2 linked regions of the Homo sapiens genome follow. The protein of the gene in region 2 purifies or fractionates together with the protein of the main gene of each other region. This does not show direct contact. Each region holds a gene or a part of one and is shown on either strand. Other genes may lie near its edges.

What was found. Proteins that work in one complex are often made in the same cells at the same time.
Region 1: the proteins of SCAI (region 2) and AHDC1 purify together in Homo sapiens (affinity purification with mass spectrometry; 2 studies listed by BioGRID). This does not show direct contact.

What each region holds. Positions count from the first base shown.
Region 1 is NC_000001.11:27,533,729-27,538,160, forward strand, and holds the end of AHDC1 (transcription factor Gibbin), read right to left. Parts: intron 1,189-4,432; 3' UTR 517-1,188; downstream 1-516. UniProt on the Homo sapiens protein: Transcription factor required for the proper patterning of the epidermis, which plays a key role in early epithelial morphogenesis. Directly binds promoter and enhancer regions and acts by maintaining local enhancer-promoter chromatin architecture.
Region 2 is NC_000009.12:125,014,505-125,021,536, forward strand, and holds part of SCAI (protein SCAI), read right to left. Parts: intron 6,266-7,032; coding exon 6,169-6,265; intron 4,702-6,168; coding exon 4,603-4,701; intron 4,448-4,602; coding exon 4,295-4,447; intron 1-4,294. UniProt on the Homo sapiens protein: Tumor suppressor which functions to suppress MRTFA-induced SRF transcriptional activity. May function in the RHOA-DIAPH1 signal transduction pathway and regulate cell migration through transcriptional regulation of ITGB1.

The DNA.
Region 1 (4,432 bases), on a different chromosome or scaffold from region 2:
GCCAAGAGAGATGTCCCTGAACCAGAGTAGAACTGTGAGGCCCAAAGGCCATGAATACACAGGACACACAAAGGGACTCGAGGCAGAGACCTGGGACCTTGGATGGAATAAGGGGGTCCAGAAGCAGGAGCCCCATGATGGAGGTTCCTCAGGGAGAGGAAACCCAGCATTTGGGGAGACCTTGGACTTGGGATAGAATATAGGGAGAGTCAGAGGAGACCCAGGACCTAGGACAAAATGGAGGTCCAAGAGGCAGAATCCCTGGACCTGGGACTGAACGCATGATCAAGGGCCAGGATGTCCTCGGCAGCAGAGTGGGGAGCTCAGAGGCAGGGGAGACGCAGGGCCTGGAGTGAAATGAGGGGGAACCCAGATCTCAGGCAGAAGGGAAAACTCAGTGGCCAGGAACACGTGTAGGTATTTCAACTCCTCTGGAGAACCAGTAGCTGGTGACAAAACCCAGCGGTGTCCCTTCCATTCCCTCCACCCTCACTCCCCCTTTCACAAGACACAAGGTTGGTTTTTTTTTTTTGTTTTTTTTTTGTTTTTTTTTTGCTTTTTTTCATTTCTTTTTAATACAAACTTGGATCTTTGGGTGTGTCCTGCCAACAGAAAACAACAACAACAACAACAGAAGAGAAAACCCAAAAGAGTGAAAAATAAGAAAGAAAAAAAAAGCTCCCGCAAGAGGTTCTTCTCCCTCCCCCCCACCATGCGAATTTGCACACCACGGGACCACAGCAGGTTTACAGAATGCAATATACAATCCACGATTTATAATAAAACAGTATATACAATAAATAGGATATTGTTCATTTTTGTCAAACGACCTGTAGATAAATTTCTCAGTGCATACTTGCAGGGGCTCTGGACACCTCGGGGCCCCGCTCGCAACCTCTTGCACACGCTCGCTCTCTCGCTCTCTCTCTCTCTTTTTTTTTTTTGTCTTTTTCTAAAACTGTGTTTTGTTTTTAAGTTTTGTACATTTTTAAAAAGTATTTACAATTGCTGGTTTTGTGCAGAAAGGGCTCACCTTCGGCTTCTGCGTGGAGGAGATGGGTGGGAGGGGGTGGAGGGAGATGGGTCTGCAGGGGGTGTAGGGGGCAGGGTGGGAGGCAGAGGGGCAGGAGCTCCTGCCAGAGGACGATGTGGACGCTGGGAGGGATCTTGGCGTTGGTTTTCTGAAAGCTGCAAAGAAACACAAGAGAAGAGGCAGGAGTGAGCGGCACGCATCGACTGTGCTCTGAGATCAGGGAAGTGAAGAGGGAGACCCCCACCCAGCTCCTCCCAGGATTCAGCAGGGTGAGGGGGAAAGCTAACCACTGTTCTTTCTCACAAAAACTCAGACCTGCCTTCTCTGAGCCCAGTTTCCCCATCTGTAAAATATGCGTGTCCAAGCCCCAAAACACAGGGTGAAGCAGGTGCTGGGTGAGGAGGTGGGGTTCCAGGCAGTGGAATTTGTTAAGAGCTTGGGCTCTGGAATCAGACACAGCTGAGTTCAAATACCAGTGCCACCCTTTAGTAGTGCTATGACCTTGGGCATGTTGTTGAACTTCTGTGAGCCTCAGTTTGCCCATCTGTAAAAAGAAGATAACTGAACTACCCCATTGGTTTGCTGGGAGGATTCAGCGGTATAGGACAGATGAAGCCTGGTCCTTAAGTGCATAATAAATTATACTGATTATTATTCATTATTATTTTTCTGGGGCAGTTAGGCTCTCCAAACCTGCCTCCTCATGTCATGATGAGTTTAGTAATTCCTCCAACTTAGGCTGTTCTGAGGAATGACATCATGGGGAGGGCAGGGCCTCAGCACACAGCACAGGTGTGAACAACTGCTTTTATTTCTTCTAAATCCAATCCTCTTCTTACCAATGCCATTCTGTTCCTTAGAGAGGTGAGGTGAGGAGGAAGTCTTTCTCAGTGAAAGAACAGAGAAACTGCCCAACACAATGCCATCTGTGTTTGGCTTAACCCTGCCTTCCTGAAGCTCAGACACTCCCAAGTTCCCAGTTCCTCCCATCGCCAGACACTCGAGATTGGAAGTACCCCTTTTTCCCAGACAGTTCTCATTATGCTTGCGGGGCCCTGGGGATCTGACTTCCCTACCCAGACCCCCAGCTTGGCTAGACCCCCTGGATTCACAGCTCTGCTAGGGTGAGTGAGAAGGTCCCCTGAAGGACAGGGATGGGCTCGGGACTTCCTAAGAGCTCCAGTCATTATTAGCCTGGTCCTTTCAGACTTCTGTCCTCCTCTCAGAGCCCCGAGACACACATCTCCCACCCTCAGTGTGCGACCATCTCCATCCGAATTAAAGGGCGAGGTGAGGATGCTGAAAGGGCCTCCTCAGGTTCCTTAGGAGCCCATCCGTCCTCCCCCACACCAGCAGGAATCAGGCGGCGGCAGAAAGCCTCTCCTCCCTTGTACTTTCTTGGCTTCCCTTTCTACCAGAGCCACATTTAAATTCTGCTCAGCCTCGGCTGCTGTCTGCTGGGCAGTCAGCCCCGGGGACGACTTTTGTCCTGAGGCTGGACTTGCCAGGACTCCCCCAAGGTCCAGGGGAACCAGGTGGGCTCCTGCAGAGGCAGGGCAGCACCTCATCCTGGTGGACCAGACCAGGTGGCAGGCAGAGGCATAGGAGAGGAGAAGAGCTGCATCTTTGTTAAGCTGTCAGGTTGCCTGCAGTTGCAGGAGGATGGAATACTAGCCGTAGGGGCGAGCGGTGTGCCTGGGAGGGTGACAGCTGTGCTGCAATGGGGTGATAGGTAGAAAAGCAGCTCTTGGGGCAAGGGCTGCTGCTGGGATGAATGCAAGCTCTCCACAGTCAGGCGGTAAACAGGCTGCAGAGACAAGAGGGGTGTCTATTAGGGAGCAGAATGATTTTATCTGGGGTAACTGCTTGAGCCAGAGCGCTGGGGGCATCTATCCAGAGGACTGCTCTATTGCGGTTGAAGAACAGTTGCCAAGCTAAAGAACCTCTGTTGGGGTGTTGGGGGTGACAAGGGAAGGGGACTTTAGGATGGGCTGCTCCAAACCACTGGCAAACTGATATTGTCCAACGCCAGCCTCCCCTGCTCCCTCCAAGGGCCCCGGGGCAGGCTGGGAGCCTCTGCACAAATCCCTGCACCCCCACCCCCACCCCAGGCCCTTAGCCACTGCCAGTGACCCTCTCTAAGCCAGGTCTCCATGGTGATCTCAGCCCAGCAGGCGGCTCCTGCCAGAACCATTCCCGCGGTGCCTGCGGCCAGGCAGCAGGAGGCTTTCTCACCCTCTGCTAAGCCGCCCATCGCGTCTCACCTTCCTCCTCCCACTACCCTCCCCAGCTTTCAGGACTTGGCCAGCCAGAGACTTTGGCAGAATCTTCGGGATGGGAAGGAGCGGGGGAGGGGGGAAATCAAAGCCCAAAAGCCCCAGGGTTCTCTCATGGAGGTGGGGGAGAATGCTGTGGCTGTGTGGAACCCTGACCTCACCAGGTTCAGCTCTCCACAAAGCAGGACCAGACACTAACGTGCCAGGCAGCCCAGTGCTAGGCACTGGGGACAAAGCAGAGACCAAGACCGATCTGGTTCCTGTCTTTGAGAGGCTCACAGATAGAGGGGAAAGCAAAGCAGACCCCAAACCAGGGTAATTACCACGCAGGGAGACAGGGGCTGTGCCACGGAAGGTCCTGGGGAGGCAGCTAACCTGGTCGTGGCAGGAGAGACTGTGGCTCTTCAACCACTGCTGAACACTACCCAGCACATGCTGGGGCCAAGACGTACGCTGACTGAGTGACAGAGCGGGGACTGACCTGAGTCTGGTCAGCATGTCAAGGTCCAGCTCCGGCCTTGCACACCTTCAGAACACCTCCTTAGACCACCCTGTTACCATAGCTACGGTACCCTTGTCATCCCGACCTGGCTCCTCCAGGGCAGGAACCTATATGTGGTACTGCTGCACACCCAGGGCTAGCACGCACCGGCCCCCAGCACACCAACCACTGTTCTGCAGACTTCACCTTTTAGTGCCTCCGTGACACACAACTGCAGAGCCACATTCCTCTGAGTCCTCATGCTCCGGTGGTTTCACCATCTGAGGTGCCAGGGCATTAAGTGGTCTCTGCCTGTCAAGGGGGGGACTGGCACTGGCAGCAGTGAGGGACAGCTGAGCAGAGATTCAAAGTGCTGCAGAGCACATATAAATCAGGTTGTCCAGAGGGGGCTGCTCTCCTCCAAAAAGGAAAAGGAATATATATTTGTGCTTTCATTTAAGTGAACAGCAAACATGTATTCATGCCCACTGGCTGCCAGGGCATGAGTTAAGGTCTAACCTCTACTCTCTAGTCTCTACTCTCTTGAAAGGGTCCAATGTCAAACAAGGCAGTAGAGCAGAAGGCAAAAAAGAGTGCATGAGGCCGGGCAGGGTGACTCACGCCTGTAATCCCAGCACTTTG
Region 2 (7,032 bases):
CAAACCACTGCTCAATGAAATAAAAGAGGATACAAACAAATGAAAGAACATTCCATGCTCATGGGTAGGAAGAATCAATAACATGAAAATGGCCATACTGCCCAAGGTAATTTATAGATTCAATGCCATCCCCATCAAGCTACCAATGACTTTCTTCACAGAATTGGAAAAAACTATTTTAAAGTTCATATGGAACCAAAAAAGAGCCCGCATCGCCAAGTCAATCCTAAGCCAAAACAACAAAGCTGGAGGCATCACGCTACCTGACTTCAAACTATACTACAAGGCTACAGTAACCAAAACAGCATGGTACTGGTACCAAAACAGAGACATAGATCAATGGAACAGAACAGAGCCCTCAGAAATAACGCCACGTATCTACAACTATCTGATCTTTGACAAACCTGAGACAAACAAGCAATGGGGAAAGGATTCCCTATTTAATAAATGGTGCTGGGAAAACTGGCTAGCCATATGTAGAAAGCTGAAACTGGATCCCTTCCTTACACCTTATACAAAAATTAATTCAAGATGGATTAAAGACTTAAATGTTAGATCTAAAACCATAAAAACCCTAGAAGAAAACCTAGGCATTACCATTCAGTACGTAGGCATGGGCAAGGACTTCATGTCTAAAACACCAAAAGCAATGGGAACAAAAGACAAAATTGACAAATGGGATCTAATTAAACTAAAGAGCTTCTGCACAGCAAAAGAAACTACCATCAGAATGAACAGGCAACCTACAAGATGGGAGAAAATGTTCGCAACCTACTCATCTGACAAAGGGCTAATATCCAGAATCTACAATGAACTCAAACAAATTTACAAGAAAAAAACAAACAACCCCATCAAAAAGCGGGTGAAGGACATGAACAGACACTTCTCAAAAGAAGACATTTATGCAGCCAAAAAACACATGAAAAAATGCTCACCATCACTAGCCATCAGAGAAATGCAAATCAAAACCACAATGAGATACCATCTCACACCAGTTAGAATGGCAATCATTAAAAAGTCAGGAAACAGGTGCTGGAGAGGATGTGGAGAAATAGGAACACTTTTACACTATTGGTGGGACTGTAAACTAGTTCAACCATTGTGGAAGTCAGTGTGGCGATTCCTCAGGGATCTAGAACTAGAAATACCATTTGACCCAGCCATCCCATTACTGGGTATATACCCAATGGACTATAAATCATGCTGCTATAAAGACACATGCACACGTATGTCTACTGCAGCACTATTCACAATAGCAAAGACTTGGAATCAACCCAAATATCCAACAATGATAGACTGGATTAAGAAAATGTGGCACATATACACCATGGAATACTATGCGGCCATAAAAAAGGATGAGTTCATGTCCTTTGTAGGGACATGGATGAAATTGGAAATCATCATTCTCAGTAAACTATCGCAAGAACAAAAAACCAAACACCGCATCTTCTCACTCATAGGTGGGAACTGAACAATGAGAACACATGGACACAGGAAGGGGAACATCACACTTTGGGGACTGTTGTGGGGCGGGGGGAGGGGGGAGGGATAGCTTTAGGAGATATACCGAATGCTAAAAGACGAGTTAATGGGTGCAGCACACCAGCATGGCACATGTATACATATGTAACTAACCTGAACATTGTGCACATGTACCCTAAAACTTAAAGTATAATAAAATAAAATAAAATAAAATAAAATAAAATAATAAATACAAAAAAAAAATACAAAAAATTAACCGGGCGTGGTGGCACACACCTGTAGTCCCATCTACTAGGAAGGCTGAGGCAGGAGAATCGCTTGAACCTGGGAGGCAGAAGTTGCAGTGAGCTGAGATTGCACCACTGCACTCCAGCCTAGGAGACAGAGCAAGACTCTGTCTCAATAAATAAATAAATAAATAAATAAATAAATAAATAAATGTCAGTTATCTAAGCAAATTAAATTCAAAATAGGAAGAAGGAAATAAGAATCAGAATCAATGTAAGAGAAAAAATTAGAAAAAATCAGTATTTCATTTACTACAATATATCGAGGCCTATTAAAATGCCATAATAATGAAGTCAGAAGTATCAGCATAATAGACAAACAGACCAAAGGAACAGAATGAGACTCAAATATATTTGAACATCAGATTTATGATAAAAGTGACACTGCAGTGTGGCAGGGAAAAGATGGTCTTTTTAGTAAATGGTGCTAGGTCTACTGGAAATCCAGAAAGAAAATCTGACCCATACTTCACACTAAAATAAATCCCAAAGATATCATAGATCTAAATATGAAAGGTAAGGTAAGCAATGATTTCTCAAAATAGGACACAAAAAAGCTAATACCAGAAAGGAAAAAAATTATAAATTAGACTACATTAAAATTAAGGACTTCTGTTCACTGGAATCTCAGTATCTGGAACAGGGGCGTCTGGCATAGCGTAGATACTAATAAATATTTTAACAGATGTTTAAAGAAAAGGAGAAAAAGAGACAGAAGATATCAGAAGAGAGTAAAAGGCAAGACAAGAGTAGGAGAAGATAGTTCAACACATAAATCTGACAAAGGACTTTCATGTAGAATATATTCAGAACTCTTACAGATCAATAAGAAAATACTGGAAATGCTTGGTCATAGAGTGTGCACATATGGAGCTGTACTAGATAATGCCTGACACTTTTCTAAAGTAAATCTATCAATTTCTATTTCTACATAGTATGAAATATTCAGTTCTTGTACTAGTTGCCAGGATATGCTATTATCAGTTTCTTGGTCTCTTTTGTTTTTAGTCATCTAGTTCGGTGATATCTCATTTGGTTTTAATTTATATTTTTCTGATTAGAAAAATTTTCTTTGAATTAAAAAAAAGTGAGAAAAATACCGAGCCTTAAGATAGTATAACTATACAAACCATAAATGTTTCAAAATATTTCCATTTAGTATATTCATACTATAATTTCAAAAACGTTGTAGACATTTGCAAAATAATGGTCATAAAAGCCAAAAATGGAGAAATACCAGAAAAATTTAACAATAACAAAAGTGATTGATAGATGCTAGGATAGGATCCAAAATTAAACTTGTATAAAAAACACATCTAGAAAAATGTATTCACTGGTGTAATTTCCAGTAAATTTCATTTCTAGTACATTAAATCTCATCATCATGGTGCTACTCTGTCATGAAAAAACATTTGAAATTCACTTTTGACAAATTTACCCAAAAACAACTCCTGGCCAAGTGCGGTGGCTCACACCTGTAATCCCAACACTTTGGGAGGCTGAGGCAGGAGGATCACTTGAGGTCAGGAGTTCAAGACCAGCCTGGCCAACATGATGATGCCATCTCTACTAAATATACAAAAATTAGCCGGGTGTGGTGGTATGTGCCTGTAATCCCAGCTACTTGGGAGGCTGAGAGGCAGGAGAATCGCTTGAACCTGGGAGATGGAGGTTGCAGTGAGCCAAAATCATGACACTGCACTCCCACCTGAGTGACAAAGCAAGACTCTGTCTCAAAAAAAAACAAAACACAAAAAACACCAACTCCTCGCCCCTTTTTGCTTGATTGGAAAGTAGGACATATACATTTTGGAAACTTTATTATTATTATTAATTTTTGAGACAGAGTCTCGCTCTGTCACCCAGGCTGGAGTACAGTGGTGTGATCTTGGCTCACTCCAACCTCCGCCTCCCAGGTTCAAGTGATTCTCTTGCCTCAGCCTCCTGAGTAGCTGGGATTACAGGAGCATGCCACCATGGCTGGCTAATTTTTGCATTCTGTAGTAGAGATGGGGCTTCGTCATGTTGGCCAGGCTGGTCTTGAACTCCTGACCTCAAGTGATCTAACCACCTGGGCTTCCCAAAGTGCTGAGATTCCAGGTGTGAGCCACTGTGCCAGGTCAGAAATTTTGGAAACTTTAGAATGTTGTAAAAAATAAAATAAAAATCCCCTATAATTTGGTTATTTGGAGATAAAACTTAGATAGTTGTAACATTTCTTCCTCGTCTTTTTCCTGTGTGCATACATATAGACATTCTAACATATATGAAATAATTCTGCTTCCTGGCTCCATGGCAAGTTTATTTTCATTTACTGTATCACGAGTATCTTTCTATGTTATTAAAAATTCTTTCTAAGCTATTTAAATATCTGTAATATATTCCATATATGCACACAGCATAATTTAATCAGCAATTTCCTCACAAGAGGATGTTAGGATATTTATAAGAAAATAATTCTGTGATCATCAATAGCACTATTTTTCACAGTGAATTTTAAGCATAATTCCTTCACAATTCTTTACCTGATTATTACAATTACCAATAATGAGTGCGTCAGCCAGAGACAACTGTCCCACAATCATGCCCTGTTCCAGCAATGGGGCTCCTGTTTCAGCAAGGCGATTCGATGTGATAACAATGGTATTATCATCATTTAATACCATTACAGGATCCGCCTAAAGAAAAAAGCAATAAGAACTTAACGAATGGCCAAGACTAAATATCAATAGAGTAAGCTATTCCTTCTTCTTGACATATACACACAATAAAAACATAAACTACACGGTCATTTATTTATCAATAATTATGATTTTTCTTATCAAAAACTGACCTCAATGAAAGCTGCTACTTCTTGAAGCACCAAGTTCCATTCCACTTGATCTTCAGTATTAAATCGGTGAGTATAATCTTCAATTTCATCTGACAATTCCTGATTTTAAAAACATCACAAAAAAGGTTATTAAAAAACCCATAAAAACACACAGCCATATAGAACCATATTCCTGACAGAAACCGACATACTTACAAAATTTGATTATTAGCAATACACAGTCCTGATTATAACAAAAAACAAAGATGAAAACTAATAAATTTTCTTCAAAAGTACAAACTTCAGAATAACACCCATCAAATAAAGTCTTTACAGAGATCTACTTCCTATCAGTACTACATGAGCAATGAATTCATTAATGAAAGAATCAGAAAAGAGAAATTCAAAAATTTTAACAATAAAAAAAAATGAGGCTGGATGCAGTATCTCATACCTGTAATCCCAGCCCTTTGGGAGGTCGAGGTGGGAGGATCATTTGAGGCCAAGATTTCGAGAGCAGCCTAGGCAACATAGTGAGACCCTACCACTACAAAAAATTATATATTTCTAAAAATACTTCCTGACTTTATTTGGATTTGTATTATATGGTTTTTGGAAATATTTTTAATGGTAACTGGGTATAAAGGAAGGTAGAAAAGGAGAACAGAGAGCTACTTCTGGTGGCCTTGTCAAAACTGGCATGTTGAGCTGGGCACGGTGGCTCATGCCTGTAATCCCAGCACTTCGGGAGGCAGAGGCTGGCGGATTGCTTGAACTCATGAGTTTCAGACCAGCCTGGGCAACATGGTGAAACCCTGTCTCTACAAAAAACACAAAAATTAGCTAGGAGTGGTGGCTTGAGCCTATGATTCCAGCTACTCAGGAGGCTAAGGTGGGAGGACTGCTTGAGCCCAGGAGGCAGAGGTTGCAGTGAGACAAGATCATGCCACTGTACTCCAGCTGGATGACAGAGCGAGACCTTGTCTCAAAAAAAAAAAAAGAAAAAAAAAAAACCCCACAAAACCCAAAAAACCAACTGGCATGTTATACTTGATACAAAATTAAGTATGCCATTGAAACTATTGAATACAGAATGCAATCAGAATTTAATATGCAATGATTACAGGTATTAAGTGGGTCTGAAGACAGTTAACTCTTAATCACCTCAGTTAATGAAGGAGAGACTTTATGCAGACACTCTAAAGTGGTGGGAAAATGAAAATCATTTGCAAGGCCTTTGTAAAGCATTATGTACTTTTTCTTCACATAACATTTCAATTATTTTCTCTTAAACTAAGAATTTTTGTTTGTTTGCATTCCCAGCCATCCACTGATGGGCTTTGAAATGTAAAACATGCAGAAAGGACAAAAGCAAGGAATCAAGATAATTATCTCAGATTAGTGTATTTGTAACATGAAAAGAGTTGGAAAATTTTTTTATCATTACCCTTGTCAGAAGTTACTATACTTTGAATATTGTAATTATTGATATATCAAAATTATTTTAACCTAAAATCTGTTTTTTAAAAATAAGATCATCCATATACAACTAGAGATTAGAATTTGAACTATTTAAAGTGTATTTACCTTTACCAGATCCTTTACAACATCCATTTTGTTGAGAAGAAGACAAACTACTATAAATCTTGCATAATATCGTAACTTCTTAACTACCAATTCAGGTCTATGGAAGATAAATGAAAAATTACTCATTAGATTAAAAAAGAATGCTTTTTGATTTTTTTAATTTTCTGATAGCTTTTAAAACTCTTTCCCTCCTTTTCTGCACAATTATAAACATTCCCACATATAAGCATATAGTCTTTTTAAAATATTTCTTACTGATTTATTAAGCTGTTTACTCATATATTCATTCATTTAACAAGTATTTATTGAGAACTTAGATGCATCAGATACTGTTAATTGCTAAAAGCACAGTTGTAAAAAACTAGAGATATTCCCTTCTTCAAAGATCTTACAGACAGAAAAGAACTTAAAATATACAGGAGAGAGATAAATGCTTACAACACAACGGAATAATATAATGATAGGAGAAATAAAGAATGCTATTTGTGCCCACAGGACTAGATCTTGGGTGAGAAAAGGCTTCCTAAAGAAAGTAATAAATGTTTAAGTTAAGAATACAACGAAGCGTGGAAGACTACAGGCAGGAAAATATGATCTCTGTGCCTTTTACTTGATGTTTTTAGACCAATTACATTTAATGTCATTATTGCTTTGGCTAGGTTTATATCTACCACCTTGCTATTTGTTTCCTACTTGCTCCTTCTCTTGCTATGTTCCTCTGTTGTTCCTGTTGTGCTTTCTCTTCGGTTAATCAAATATTTTTTAGTGTTCCATTTTATATCATCTATTGGCTTCCTAGTTATACTACTTCTTTGTTATTGTTCTTTAAGTGATTGCTAGGAGTAACAACGTGCATCCTTTAAC